Regions from separate parts of the Homo sapiens genome. Here all the other regions are reported to be linked to region 1. Evidence: microRNA targets listed by miRTarBase, many of them from high-throughput screens and not tested one by one. Region 1 holds a microRNA gene; each other region holds the end of a gene's coding sequence.
The links. Region 1 holds the annotated microRNA hsa-miR-1298-3p (CAUCUGGGCAACUGACUGAAC, at 2,616-2,636, opposite strand). A microRNA usually pairs through its seed, bases 2 to 8, with sites in the 3' UTR of a target mRNA and lowers its output. Matches are read on the target gene's strand: a 7mer-m8 pairs with bases 2 to 8, a 7mer-A1 pairs with bases 2 to 7 and ends in A, and an 8mer does both.

Region 1 (4,243 bases):
TTTTGAGCAGAAGAGCCATATAGATGTACTTTCCATGTAACATCCACAATCCTTGGCCAAGTCCTGGGTACAAAGTAATTGGCTGATTGATGGGAAGGTAGGAGATTTAAGGTGTGAAGTCAAAAGATACTATCTAAGAATAAAGGAAGAGCTGTGGTTTTGCCCAAATTGTGCTTGGAGAGGATAGAAGCTTGCAACTTTATTGAAAACGCTTGCCTTGCAACTTCTAAAGCTAACCATTTATAATTCATTTTTACCATTACCTTTTCCACCCTTTGGCACTGAAGAAAGATTGGTCGTGTTTCAATCACGTTTTCTGCTCTCACACTACTTTTTATTCTTTTTTTCCCAGACCTGGTTGAAGATAATATTGATGAGTCTTAAAAAAAAATGCCAGCATTTCTACTCATGTTTTAACAAAAATTGGAGAGTCTAGATTCACCCATGAAAAGGTATAGTTTACACTAGATTTCTGGAAATTCCGTTAGCACATTATAATGATGCAGCATATTTTCTATCAAACTGAAAGACTAAATTTCACACTAAATTTTTTTAAATTGTAGAATAGACCATGTGCGATGGCTCACGCCTATAATCCCAGCACTTTGGGAGGCCGGAGTGGGTGGATTGCTTGAGCTCAGGAGTTCAAGACCAGCCTGGACAAAATGGCAAAACCCCATGTCTACAAAAAATACAAAAAATTAGCCAGATGTGGTGGCGTGTGCCTCTGGTCCTAGCTACTTGAGAGGCTGAGGTGGGAGGATCCCTTGAACTCAGGTGGTCGAGGCTGCAGTGAGCCCTGATCACATCATTCTACTCCAGCTAGGGCAACAGACCCTGTCTCAAAAAAAAAAGAAATTGTAGAATATAGTCAACTAGATCACTTCTGTCTCACTTTTTATAACAAAGCATTTAAAAATTGAATAAATAATAATACATATAGAAGTTTGATTTTTATCAATTTTCAGTGTTCAGAAATTATGACTCATAATTCAAATATTATCCCTCTAGTTATTATACCCAGTGAGCTTTTAGCAGATGTCTAAATCAAAAATGAATTAGCCATAAATGTTCAGATTAGTCCTGGGAAGATTATATTAATGTGGCACAGATTTACAATAATTTTGGGGGAGCTCATTTAATTCAAAAATTATCCTTAGGACTAATGAATATTGTAGGAAGTTTTCCTTTCAACTTCAAATGTACTCTAGCGATTTTCTAATAAATCATACATTTGTCATACTAAAAACTCACCTTTGCTAATTATAGTCAAATCAGATAATTTTTATTATTTTGATAGAAAGTTTTTCAGTTATTATCATCAATGAAATTAAAGACTACTCTTCCACCAGTGATTATTCAATTTGAATGCAAGTCTAGGCTCATTACTTTTATTCCCTCTCCTCCAAGATAATGTTAAGTGGTTATTTAAATAGATTTACCTGTTCCTCCTATGCTTGGAATTCAAATGGAAAAAAAAATTTTTTTCTCCTCATTTGTATTTACTAAATACCTCTGCTTGTGTTTGACATGTTCCATGAGCGTGATTATTGTTAAATTATGTGCGAATTCACACAACAGTTAACTCAAAATCTACAGCATATAAAATTATGTTTTTCACAGCTAGACCTATTCCATTTACATAAAATAATACTTTAAAAACATACACTTCCCAATTGATAGACTTAAAGTAGCTATTGCAAATCACTCTATGATGGTAGTAACAGACATGGAGAGAATTTGCCTTAGTGGGCAGAATGCCCAGCAATTTGAAACTGCTTTCTCCATAGGTGGTAGCAGAACTATCTGGGAATTATCTCAGTGTTAGTATGCACATAGCACAACAAACTGAAGGTTTTCAAAGAGCAGAGCTAATGGAGCAAACCATATGCTAAATATCTGTGTTGGAGACCAACTCCAACCGATCTGCAGGACCAAAAGCTGTATAATAGTAGTTTCATATATTCAAATATTTATCGATTGCTTATTACATGCCAGGCACTATGCCAGATGCTGGGCATGTAGTAGTAAACAAGGTAAACCAGGCCCCTGCTCCAATGGAGCTTACATTCTAGCTGGAGATACAGAAAATAAACATTTAAACAAAGATGTAGGATAATTTCAAATCGTGATAATTGCTATGAATAAAATGAAATTGCATCATGAGATAAAGAGTGATTGGGGTAAATACATTAGATGGATCCATGTACATAGCCATAGCTTGAGGTTAGATATCTTTTAAATATTGTAATATACAAATAATATTTGCCAGCATTTGCCAGCTACTCTCCATCACAGTATAAAATAGTTATTTTATACCGGTGAGTTAAGTACACGACAAGTGTCACTGATGGGAGCAGATCAAAATTTTCTGTTAATTTGATTTTAATTTTGCAAGCTAGAAAAACAAATCCTCTTTATCTTTTGTCAAGACACTTAAAAATCAATTTAGTTGCATACTAAAATACATTCCCACTTACATTTACAATGGTGTCTCTTCACCCACAAGCAATTCCTACTTCCCATTTCATTAGATTAAGAGATCACAAACTTTTCACTTTATAACAGGCTCTTCTGGTTGTGGAGGGTTCCAGCTGAGTCATGAAAAGTGAAAAGTTCAGTCAGTTGCCCAGATGTATTTATTGCCAAATAACACAGGGTACTTGGATACATCTGGACAGCCGAATGAACTCTTAACTCCTCGTCTCTCCAACAGCTCTTCCTTCTCGGCTTCAAGACATCCTATATAAAGGGGAAAGAAACAAACAAAAAGCTACTTCAAAGTTGAAGGGTCAGTTTCTGGTTTTGCTGTCTCATCTGGAAAAAAGAAGTGACTTCTGCTATTGTTTTATAACTTATTGATATAAAATGTATACAACTCATAAAATGTAGAAATAGCTAGAAGTACCAGATGAATCTTGTTAAATTCAAATATGTCATGAATACAGAAAACTGAGACAACAAAAATTAATTTGCATAATGAATAATTTATATAATGTATAATTCATTCTAGTATCATTCAACACCCTAGCCGTTAAATATGTGTGATTAGCATAAAGGACATTAGGCTGGGCAGTAGGAGACATGAGTTCTAGTCTTGACTCTTACCACTTCTTGATGTGTCACTCAAACTTTTTGAGCCTCACTGTTTTCATCCATGACACAGAAGTTGCAATAGAGGACCTCTATCCCTTTTTGCTCTGAAATGCTGTGAATTGGGTTTTCTTGCTAAATTGTTGACATTATTCTACGCTGTTTTACAAACAAGATACTTCTAAATAGCTGAGTTTGGTTACAATTAAATCTTACTTGTTATTGCTAATTAAATATAAAACATAGCATTCACCTGACAAAGCCTTTTGTTTGAAAGGAATGCGAAAGTGACTTTTAACTTGAGTATTCTCATAACTCAGTCTACACATCCCACAAATTAATATGTAGGTATTCTGTACCATGCCTTTATCTACTTCCTTAAATGAATCCTTAAATACATTTCTCATTCTTAAAGAGTTAGGAGACCACACAGACTCATAAAAATTTTAAACAAAATTGTTTATTGGTGATTTTATTTTAAAAAATCTTCTGCCTAGAATATTTTACAGAAAAGTGAAGTATAAGAAGTAATGGCCAGTTTTGTAGCTATCTAAAGCTTGGCTTCTACTTTAGTGGTTTAATTCTCAGGTAGAATCTGTTTATGGTTTTGTGTACTCTTCTACCATTTTGTTTATTTATGGAGAAAAATAGTACTTCAGTTTGACAACTTTGAAAATAGTGTTTCCTGTCCCAGTTCTACAAACGTTATATCAGATGGTGTCAATATTTAGCGAAACTGATATGCCTATTTTATAACTCCCCTCAGTGTAATTAAAGCTAAAATATCAGACCACAAATGACATGTAATATATTTTCACTTTTTAAATTTTCTAATTAGATTTGTGGAGAATTCTTCAACTTACCCTCTCAGAGTACCTCCTGTACAACTCAATTTATAAAATAAAACCTGTCAGAAAATTCGAACTAACAAATCTTCAAATCCTTTTGCTCATGACTCTGTGTGTGTATGTGTGTGTCTGTGTATACGTGTGTATGCATGTGTTTTGAGAGTGAGGAATGAAAAGAAAGGTGCTACAACTACACACATTTTATTATAACCACCATCCAAAGCACCATCATTTCATAATCATTTCATAATAATTCAAAGCCCTTTGAATGTTTGAATATTTTCCTTCACGTTTTTCAAGAG
Region 2 (4,243 bases), not on the chromosome of region 1:
CTCCACCTGACCTTCCTATGCCTTCCCTCCAGGACAAAGAAGTGAACTTGGAGCAGGTCCACCGGCGCATGAACAGCCTCATGGATGAAGACATTGCTCACAAGCAGATTTCCCCAGCGTCGATTGAGCTCTCGGCCCTGGAGATGGGGGGCCTGGCTCCCACCCAGACCTTGGAGCCGACACGGGAGTACCAGAACACCCAGCTCTCGGTCAGCACCTTTCTGCCAGAGCAGAGCAGCCATGGCACCAGCCGGACACTCTCATCAGGGCCCAGCAGCAACCTGCCGCTGCCGCTGAGCAGCTCGGCGACCATGCCCTCCATGCAGTGCAAACACAGGTCACCCAACGGGGGGCTGTTCCGGCAGAGCCCGGTGAAGACCCCCATCCCCATGTCCTTCCAGCCCGTGCCTGGAGGCGTCCTTCCAGAGGCTCTGGACACCTCCCACGGGACCTCCATCTGACTGCGCCGCCTGCCCTCCTGCCCACCCTCCCACCCACCCGACCAGCAGAGCTTTTTAATACAAGAAAACAACAACACAAACCACACACACTCGCACACACACACATACACAGAGACTCTTTCATTTTTCTTGTACATATGTGTAAATAATGACAGAATGGAGTGGGGTAAAAGTGTATTTTGAATATTCCCAATTTTCGAAGTCAGTAAAAAAACACAAAAACTGTATGAATGACTTTGTAAATTTTGTTCTATATGAATAAAAAGGCAAATTACTTGTGATCATTCTGAAGTGCCAAAGGAGCCCCCCCATTCCTGGGCCTTTCTGAGGGCAGGAGGGGCGACCAGATAAGGAGCCCCTCTCTGCTGGGGGAGAAGGGAAGACGAGGAACCCCACATGCCACTCGCTGCCTTGTCCCACAGCTTGCTGCCCCATTTCTTTGCTCCTGGCACCTCGTCCCTTTTAGTCCCTCAGCTTGATAAAGAGTGAGTTTGGAGCCCGCATTGGGCTGGCCCACTGGGTTGCTGTGCTGTAGGGTGATCGGCTGTTCTGGGTAGCCTGGGGCTGAGGAGGTGCCCTGGACTCAGGGCTATCCTGTCCTGTCTTGGATCTTGCGGGACGAGTTAGTCACCGCTGTGTGTGTTGCAGTGTGCCTCTGCCCCATGGGCCCGAGAGAAGCTGACAATTACCCATAGTGAGGTAATTGAGGGCTTTGATACTGAGCTGTTCTCATATCATACTGTTGGCCTTGTTTTTCATTTTCTTTTCAAAATTAGAAGAATCAAAAAGTGATAGAATATTGGGGGAAGGAGGGCAGACTCCATCGTTTCCTCAGGGAGACTGGGCGGAGGTGGGGTTGGTCTGGAAGAAGGTCCATGGGGGCAGGGAGTTGCGAGGTGGGGTTAGTTGCATGGACCAGGTGAGGTGGTGGAACAAAAGGCCAGGTAGAGGAAGAATATTCCCTTGGGTTTGGACCCATGGTCCCAGGTGAGAGAAGGAAGTGAGGCCATAGATGCAGGGAGTAGAAGCTTTGTGGTGTCAGGCAAACGGACTCTGTTAGTAAGAGTTGGGGGAGGTGCCCAGGTGGGTGGACCAGTACTCCAGGTGATGGGGCATGCTGAGAAATAGAGAAAAGAGACCATGTTTATTTGGGTAGGAGGAAGCCTTGCCTTGCGCCTTAGGTGAGAAGCATAAGTGTAACTCCCATCCACCAGGGAAGTTGCTTGTAGCCCCAAAAGTAAAGGCCTATCTCTGGGTCATAAATCCTGCAGGCAGTCCAACAAACAGGGCTGGCTCCAGCACAAACTCTCCCTTCCACCTTTACGACCCTCTCCAGACCAGACCTGGAGTCCTCTTCAAGCAGCAATCCAACCCAGAGCAGGGGCCCTCCCCACTCAGGCATCTGATAACCTCTGAGATTTCCAGGCCTATCCCTGTGCAGGTACAGCTGCAGGGAAGCCCAGTTTTCTAAGCCTAGGACCACCTAACAGCGCCCCCTCCTTCAGTTGCCCTTTCTGAGGCAACTAAACTACAGAATCAGGGAAAGAACCATTAGGAGTGGAACTGGGGGAATCTGAGTTGTGTCACTTCAGTTCCTCTCCTAAAGACAAAGGTTAGTCTGATCTCCAGACCCGTCAGAATGGAATACACAGCCCACATCTGTCACTGAAGGAGGTGGAGCTCCCACAGCCAGCAGTAATCAGGGAGCTGAGAGCCTGGTTCTGTGATCATGGAGAAATACAAAGTCCTATTGATTGCTTCTTCTATAGCCTTGTAGAGTTTCTAGAGAGATGTATTTATGAGGGTGATAACTAGCCCAGGATTGATTTCTTTCCTAAAGTCCCTAGTGACATGATTGAGCAGTAAAGAACGGCCAAATCACACAGTCAGCTAAAAGCACTGTGGGGAAGAGAGTGTTTATAATTATGTTATTTATTGCTGGATGCTGAGAATGGTCTGATATTCGTGCTACCTAGGCAATCCATTGACATTTCTCCAATCAGAGCATGTGGACCTTGGAGCCAGGCATGCTCAGAGAAGCCTAGGTGGGCTACCATGACCCCGAGGAAGAGCAGGCTTTGTTTTCCATCAGCACGTTGGGGGCCCTGCCCTGAATGGTCAATTTTTCACATATATATCTCTCTATTTTTTTAATCAAACTCTGGTCTCACTGCCTTATCTCACACCAACTCTGTTTCCTCATTGCCCCCTGAGATGGCCTGTCTTCTGGGGTATAGCTTGGATGTCTTCTTGGATGGTTCTGCTTAGAATGAGTGTCAAGGAGGAAAGAGAGGGAGATGGAGGATGTGTTTGTGCGCCTGTGTGTGTGTGTTTGTGTGTGTGTGTGTGTGTGAGAGAGAGAGAGAGAGAGAGAGAGACCAGCATCTTCAAGAGAAGTATTCTGCTTATACAAAATCCTTAACACCTCATGGTGTTATTCTTCACCATGTTTATATATATATATATATATTTTTTTTTTTTTTTAGAATTTTCTACCCTTGGCATGAGGGGAAATGATTGATATTCAAGCAAGTTCTCTAGGAAAAAAAAAAACTTCCCAACTCAGATTTCTGTGTCAGCTCAGAATGTATCTTTTTTTCATGCTTTGCTCTTTGGATTTATAACTCTGTTTAGACTATTCCATACATTTTAGGTATATTTTGTGCCTTCAGACACTGCAAATAATAATCAGCATTTGGATTAAAGTTGTTTAATAATAAATCTTGTCTTTGCTCCCTATGCTCTTATTCTCTGGGGTGAAGAAATACTGTCTGCTTGTTTCTGGGCATGCTGAGATCATGAAGTAAATTCTGTGCTATCAGCAGGGACAGTCATGAGGAAAACTCCTCTCCTCAAGGGGGTCTCAGATATGCCTGGAGGTGGGGGCAGGCCCTCCTCACCCAGTGCATATCCAGAGTTCCCTGAAACCAACCAGGGGACAGTGTGAGGGACAGGCTGAGGAGCAAGTCTAATTTTTGGTTAACCTAACAGTGTTCTTTAAAATATTACGTTCTTGGAAGTGTCTTAGGAGAGAACTGGGTCATCATCATGCGTAGAGAAGTGCTCCCATGGCCTGGAGGAATGAACACCCCTTTAATTGTCAGCTGACTGTGCTGCCACTCTCATCTCTGCACTCACCCTGACCTCAGATAAGTTGCTTCCCTGTGCTTAGGTCTCAGAGCTAAGGGACTGTCATTCCTGGTGGAGCACAGCTTGGCTGGACCCCCAGCTTGGCTTCTCAAAATTTGGCCCTTACAGGATCTGTGGAGACCTTTCTCCAATGAACATCTTATGCCCTCAGTCATCCTACAGGCCTCAAGCCATCAACCTGATCTTCCACCCCCAGATGTGTGTGCTTTTCAGCCGACCTCTGAAAAAGTCCCCTGGCTTCAGTGACTTTGTGGGGGACAGCCCCGCTGTCGGCCTCAAGCTCAGTAAAGCTGATCTGAGGAGGCTGTCTGACATGATCAAAATTTCTTCTTCTAGAAACCAAAAGGAGGATGCCCAGCCCTAGTTCTTCTGCCCTGCACCAAGGACAGGCTTCTCCACGTTGGGGCCACTCCTCAGACTGGGGCTGAGGGGCGGGCAACAGACACCGCTGGATTCTGTGAGCAGATGGGTGGACAGGAGCAGCTGCAGGGAACCACAAAGGGCTGTTTTCTTAAGAAGAAGCTGCCTAGTTCCTAAATCAGAAATCCCCCGAATAGTGCCAAGGTAAAACTAATTCCATACCTAATGTTTGTCTTTTCAAGTTCTAAAGGAGAAGCAGACACATTAAAGAA
Region 3 (4,243 bases), not on the chromosome of region 1:
CCAGCTCACCCTACATCAGCGAGTTCACACTGGAGAGAAGCCCTATGACTGTGGTGACTGTGGGAAGGCCTTCAGCCGGAGGTCAACCCTCATTCAGCATCAGAAAGTTCACAGCGGAGAGACTCGTAAGTGCAGAAAACATGGTCCAGCCTTTGTTCATGGCTCCAGCCTCACAGCAGATGGACAGATTCCCACTGGAGAGAAGCACGGCAGAGCCTTTAACCATGGTGCAAATCTCATTCTGCGCTGGACAGTTCACACTGGTGAGAAATCCTTTGGATGTAATGAATATGGAAAAGCTTTCAGTCCCACCTCACGACCCACTGAAGATCAGATAATGCATGCTGGGGAAAAGCCCTATAAATGTCAAGAATGTGGAAACGCCTTCAGTGGAAAGTCAACCCTTATTCAACATCAGGTAACTCACACTGGTCAGAAACCATGTCATTGCAGTGTGTATGGGAAAGCCTTCAGCCAGAGTTCACAGCTCACACCACCTCAGCAGACTCGTGTTGGAGAGAAACCTGCTTTAAATGATGGCTCTAAAAGATACTTTATTCATATCAAGAAGATTTTCCAAGAAAGACATTTTTAATGTGATAAATGCAGAAGACAGTTTAGCAACTGTTCACTTGACATTAGAAGATAAGATGGCATAATGAAAGATATATAAGGTCTAAATATTACTGGCAAAGTAAAATAAATAGTTCAGATGACTACTAAAGTCAAAGTCATTAAATCTGGAAGTAAACACGAGAATTCATTCTGGGAAATCAGGCTGTCTGTGTAAAGGTTACTGCTGTGCTCAGGAGTTGAACCGTGTGGTGCTGTATCCGGATACTCATGACGAATGGATGGAGGGCGTGAAAAGTGAGCCCAGCTGGTGCTCTGGGTCTACCCTACCTGACATCCTTCCAGTCTTATCCTTTGTTTCCTATCCAGGCCCAGGCTTGTGGCTGAGAACATCCACTTTCAGTCCCATATACCTGCCTCCAAGTGTGGTACAGAGAACTTGGGCCTGCTGGGGGCGCTTAGCCTTACTCTCTCCACCACCTCTCCCACCAACCCCCAGATGAACTGCAGGTAGACGTTTCTTCCTTGCTTGGAGCCCCAGTTTTTGCATTTCATTTTCATTAAAATGAAAGGTGGTTTGGTTTTGGTTCTAAGGAGCTCTACAGTTTAACAGAGAGAGGGACCTTAGGGGCCAAGAAAGCAGGGGCCTACCAAGTATCTCCACTTTTGAAAATTGTAATTACTGATAAAAAATTTTTTAAAGGCAGGTTTATTGAAGCATAATTTATAAACAATAAAATTTACTCTTTTTAGTGTATAGTTCTTTGGGCTTTGACAAAAACATACAATTGTGCCACTACCACATTCCAGACATTGAACATCTTCACCACCACCCAGAATTCCTTTGTGCTCTCTTGTGGTTAACCCCTCCTCAACCCCAGTCCGTGGAAACCACTGGTTTGTTTTCTATCCTCTATCCATCACCTCACCATTTCCAGAAATAGTGTGCAGCTGTTTGCACGTGGCTGCTTTTACTGAACATGATGCATTGGAGTCATCCATATTGCCTGTGTAGAGTGCTTTTTTGCACCGAGTAGCATTCCATTGTATGGATGGAGCCATTTGTTTATCCGTTCACCCATGGCAGGGTATTTGGGCATTTTCAGTATGGGCAACTATGATTAAAGCTGCCATCACTGTGTATCAACTACAGGCTGTTTTGTGAATCTAACTTTTCAGTTATCTTGGGTAAATAGGAGTGGGATTGCTGGGTCATATGGTAAGCTTATGTTTAACATTTTAAGAAACTGCCAAACTTTTACAAAGTCAGTTGTATATCCCCACTGATGATGTGTGAGTTTAGTTGCTTTGAATCCTCACCAGATCTTGGTATTGTCCTTTTTTTTTTTTTTTTTTTTCCGAGGCGGAGTTTTGCTCTTGTTGCCCAGGCTGGAGTGCAATGGCGCGATCACGGCTCACCACAACCTCCGCCTCCCGGGTTCAATTCAAACGGTTCTCCTGCCTCAGCCTCCTGAGAAGCTGGGATTAGAGGCATGCACCACCACGCCCGGCTAATTTTGTATTTTTAGTAGAGACGGGGTTTCTCTATGTTGGTCAGGCTGGTCTCCAACTCCCGACCTCAGGTGATCCACCCACCTCAGCCTCCCAAAGCGCTGGGATTACAGGCATAAGCCAACGTGCCCAGCAGTATTGTCCATTTTTTAATATTCTAGCTATTTTAGTGGAGATGTAGTGGTATCCATGGTTTTAATTTGCATTCTCCTATTGACCATGGTTTGATCAGTAAGCATCTATTTAAAGAGTTTCATTGGGAAGTTTGAATAACACTGTAGTAGTTTCTCAGAGTGTGATCACCTGTGAAATTCTGATCTTCAATTCTTTTTTTTTTTCTCCTTTTTTCTGAAACAAAGTCTCGCGTTGTCACCCAGGCTGGAGTGCAGTGGCACGATCTCAACTCACTGCAACCTCCGCCTCCCAGGTTCAAGCGATTCTTCTGCCTCAGCCTCCCGAGTAGCTGGGACTACAGACGCGTGCCACCACGCCCAGCTAATTTTTGTATTTTTCTTAGAGACGGGGTTTCACCATGTTGGCCAGGGTGGTCTCAAACTCCTGACCCCATAATCCGCCCTCCTCAGCCTCCCAAAGTGCTAGGATTACAGGTGTGAGCCACCACGCCCGGCCTCTGATTTTCAATTCTGAGACTCTACCTGCAAGAATCTTTTTTCTTTTCTTTTCTTTTCTTTTTTTTTTTTTGAGACGGAGTCTCATTCTGTCGCCCAGGCTGGAGTGCAATGGCGCAATCTCTACTCGCTGCAAGCTCCACCTCCTGGGTTCACACCATTCTCCTGCCTCAGCCTCCCAAGTAGCTGGGACTACAGGCGCCCGCCACCACGCCCAGCTAATTTTTTGTATTTTTTAGTAGAGACGGGGTTTCACTGTGTTAGCCAGGATGGTCTCAATCTCCTGACCTCGTTATCCGCCCGCCTCGGCCTCCCAAAGTGCTGGGATTACAGGCATGAACCACCGTGCCCGGCCAAGAATCTTTTTTCAAATCTACCTTTCATTCCCTCCAGGTCTAACTGAAATATTTCCCCCCTTCAAGGAGCCTACCTTAGTTAATCTCTCATTCCATCTTTGTTTTCTTTTTTTCTTTTGAGACAGTGTCTCACTCTTATCACCCAGGCTGGAGTGCAGTGAAGCGATCACAGGTCACTGCAGCCTTGACTTCCTGGGCTCAAGCAACCCTCCGACCTCAGCTCCCAAGTAGCTGGGACTACAGGCACACACCACCATACCCAGATAATTTTTTAATTTTTTGTAAAGATGGTGTCACACCATGTTGCCCAGGCTGGTCTTGAACTCTTGGAGTCAAGCGATCCACCCACCTTGCCCTTCCAAAGTGCAGGTCTTACAGGCGTGAGCCACGGCGCCTGGCCTTACTGTTTTCTTAGGGAATTTGGGGTCACCGCTACATTTGGTTTAACATCCATTCTGTGATTTGCTGCGCTTATTCCCCCGCTCAGGTTCTGTCTCCCCCACTTTATTATTAAAATTCTTATCACAGAACCTCTTCCAAGTGTGGGAATTGCCAGCCTTAGTGTGGTCCATGTGGAATGGTCCACACAAAAGAGGGAGTGGATAGCACAGGCTCACCTGGAGGGTCCTGTCTCCCTCTGAAATGGATTCACTCTGACCTCAGGGAAAACACTGAATCTTCTTGGGTCTCTTTTTCTCCAGCTCTAAAATGGGGGAAAAAAACACCTCCCCCACGTCTAAAAAATAACTCTTTTACCCTTGTATCCCACAGCACAACATTCATATCCCCACCATTTCAACTTACATTTTCCTTTCTACCTCGTTACCCTACATTATACGGAGAACTCTCTGCTGTCAGAGATGTTGTCTTATGCACCTTTTTATCTCCAGCACACGATACAGAACAGGTGCTTAGGATGTACTTGGGAAGGAAGGAAGAGAGGTGAAGGAGGCAGAGAAAGGAAACAGTGCCAAGAATGTGCTTTGCGTAAATGTGAACCTTGTGTTCTGCTTCTGCTCTGTCCATGAGCACACTGGGTACATTAAAATTGTTTTCTCCTTCTGATCTACTGGAAAGGTCCCACAATGATGCCTCCCTTAAGAGGCCCACAGGCCTCACATTTACGTAGAATGGAAGGAAGCACCGGGGCATGGGAGGGCTTGTGGGTGGCTC

Region 2: miRTarBase lists GRID1 as a target of hsa-miR-1298-3p. Seed matches in the 3' UTR shown: 7mer-A1 at 805-811.
Region 3: miRTarBase lists ZNF251 as a target of hsa-miR-1298-3p. Seed matches in the 3' UTR shown: 7mer-m8 at 1,068-1,074.

What each region holds. Positions count from the first base shown.
Region 1 is chrX:114,713,697-114,717,939 of GRCh38, reverse strand. MIR1298 (microRNA 1298) reads right to left here and starts at 2,707; the gene lies at 2,596-2,707. The region is part of intron 2 of HTR2C (5-hydroxytryptamine receptor 2C); the gene reads right to left. LOC105373313 (a long non-coding RNA gene) reads left to right here. Exons shown (of 5, transcript XR_001755943.2): 5 at 353-446.
Region 2 is chr10:85,598,491-85,602,733 of GRCh38, reverse strand. GRID1 (glutamate ionotropic receptor delta type subunit 1) reads left to right here. Exons shown (of 16, transcript NM_017551.3): 16 at 33-3,182. The coding sequence ends at 461. The region is part of intron 2 of GRID1-AS1 (GRID1 antisense RNA 1); the gene reads right to left. Among named protein-coding and RNA genes, the nearest start is that of GRID1-AS1, 23 kb to the right of the region's middle.
Region 3 is chr8:144,717,996-144,722,238 of GRCh38, reverse strand. ZNF251 (zinc finger protein 251) reads left to right here. Exons shown (of 5, transcript NM_138367.2): 5 at 1-1,330. The coding sequence ends at 595. Among named protein-coding and RNA genes, the nearest start is that of ARHGAP39, 34 kb to the right of the region's middle.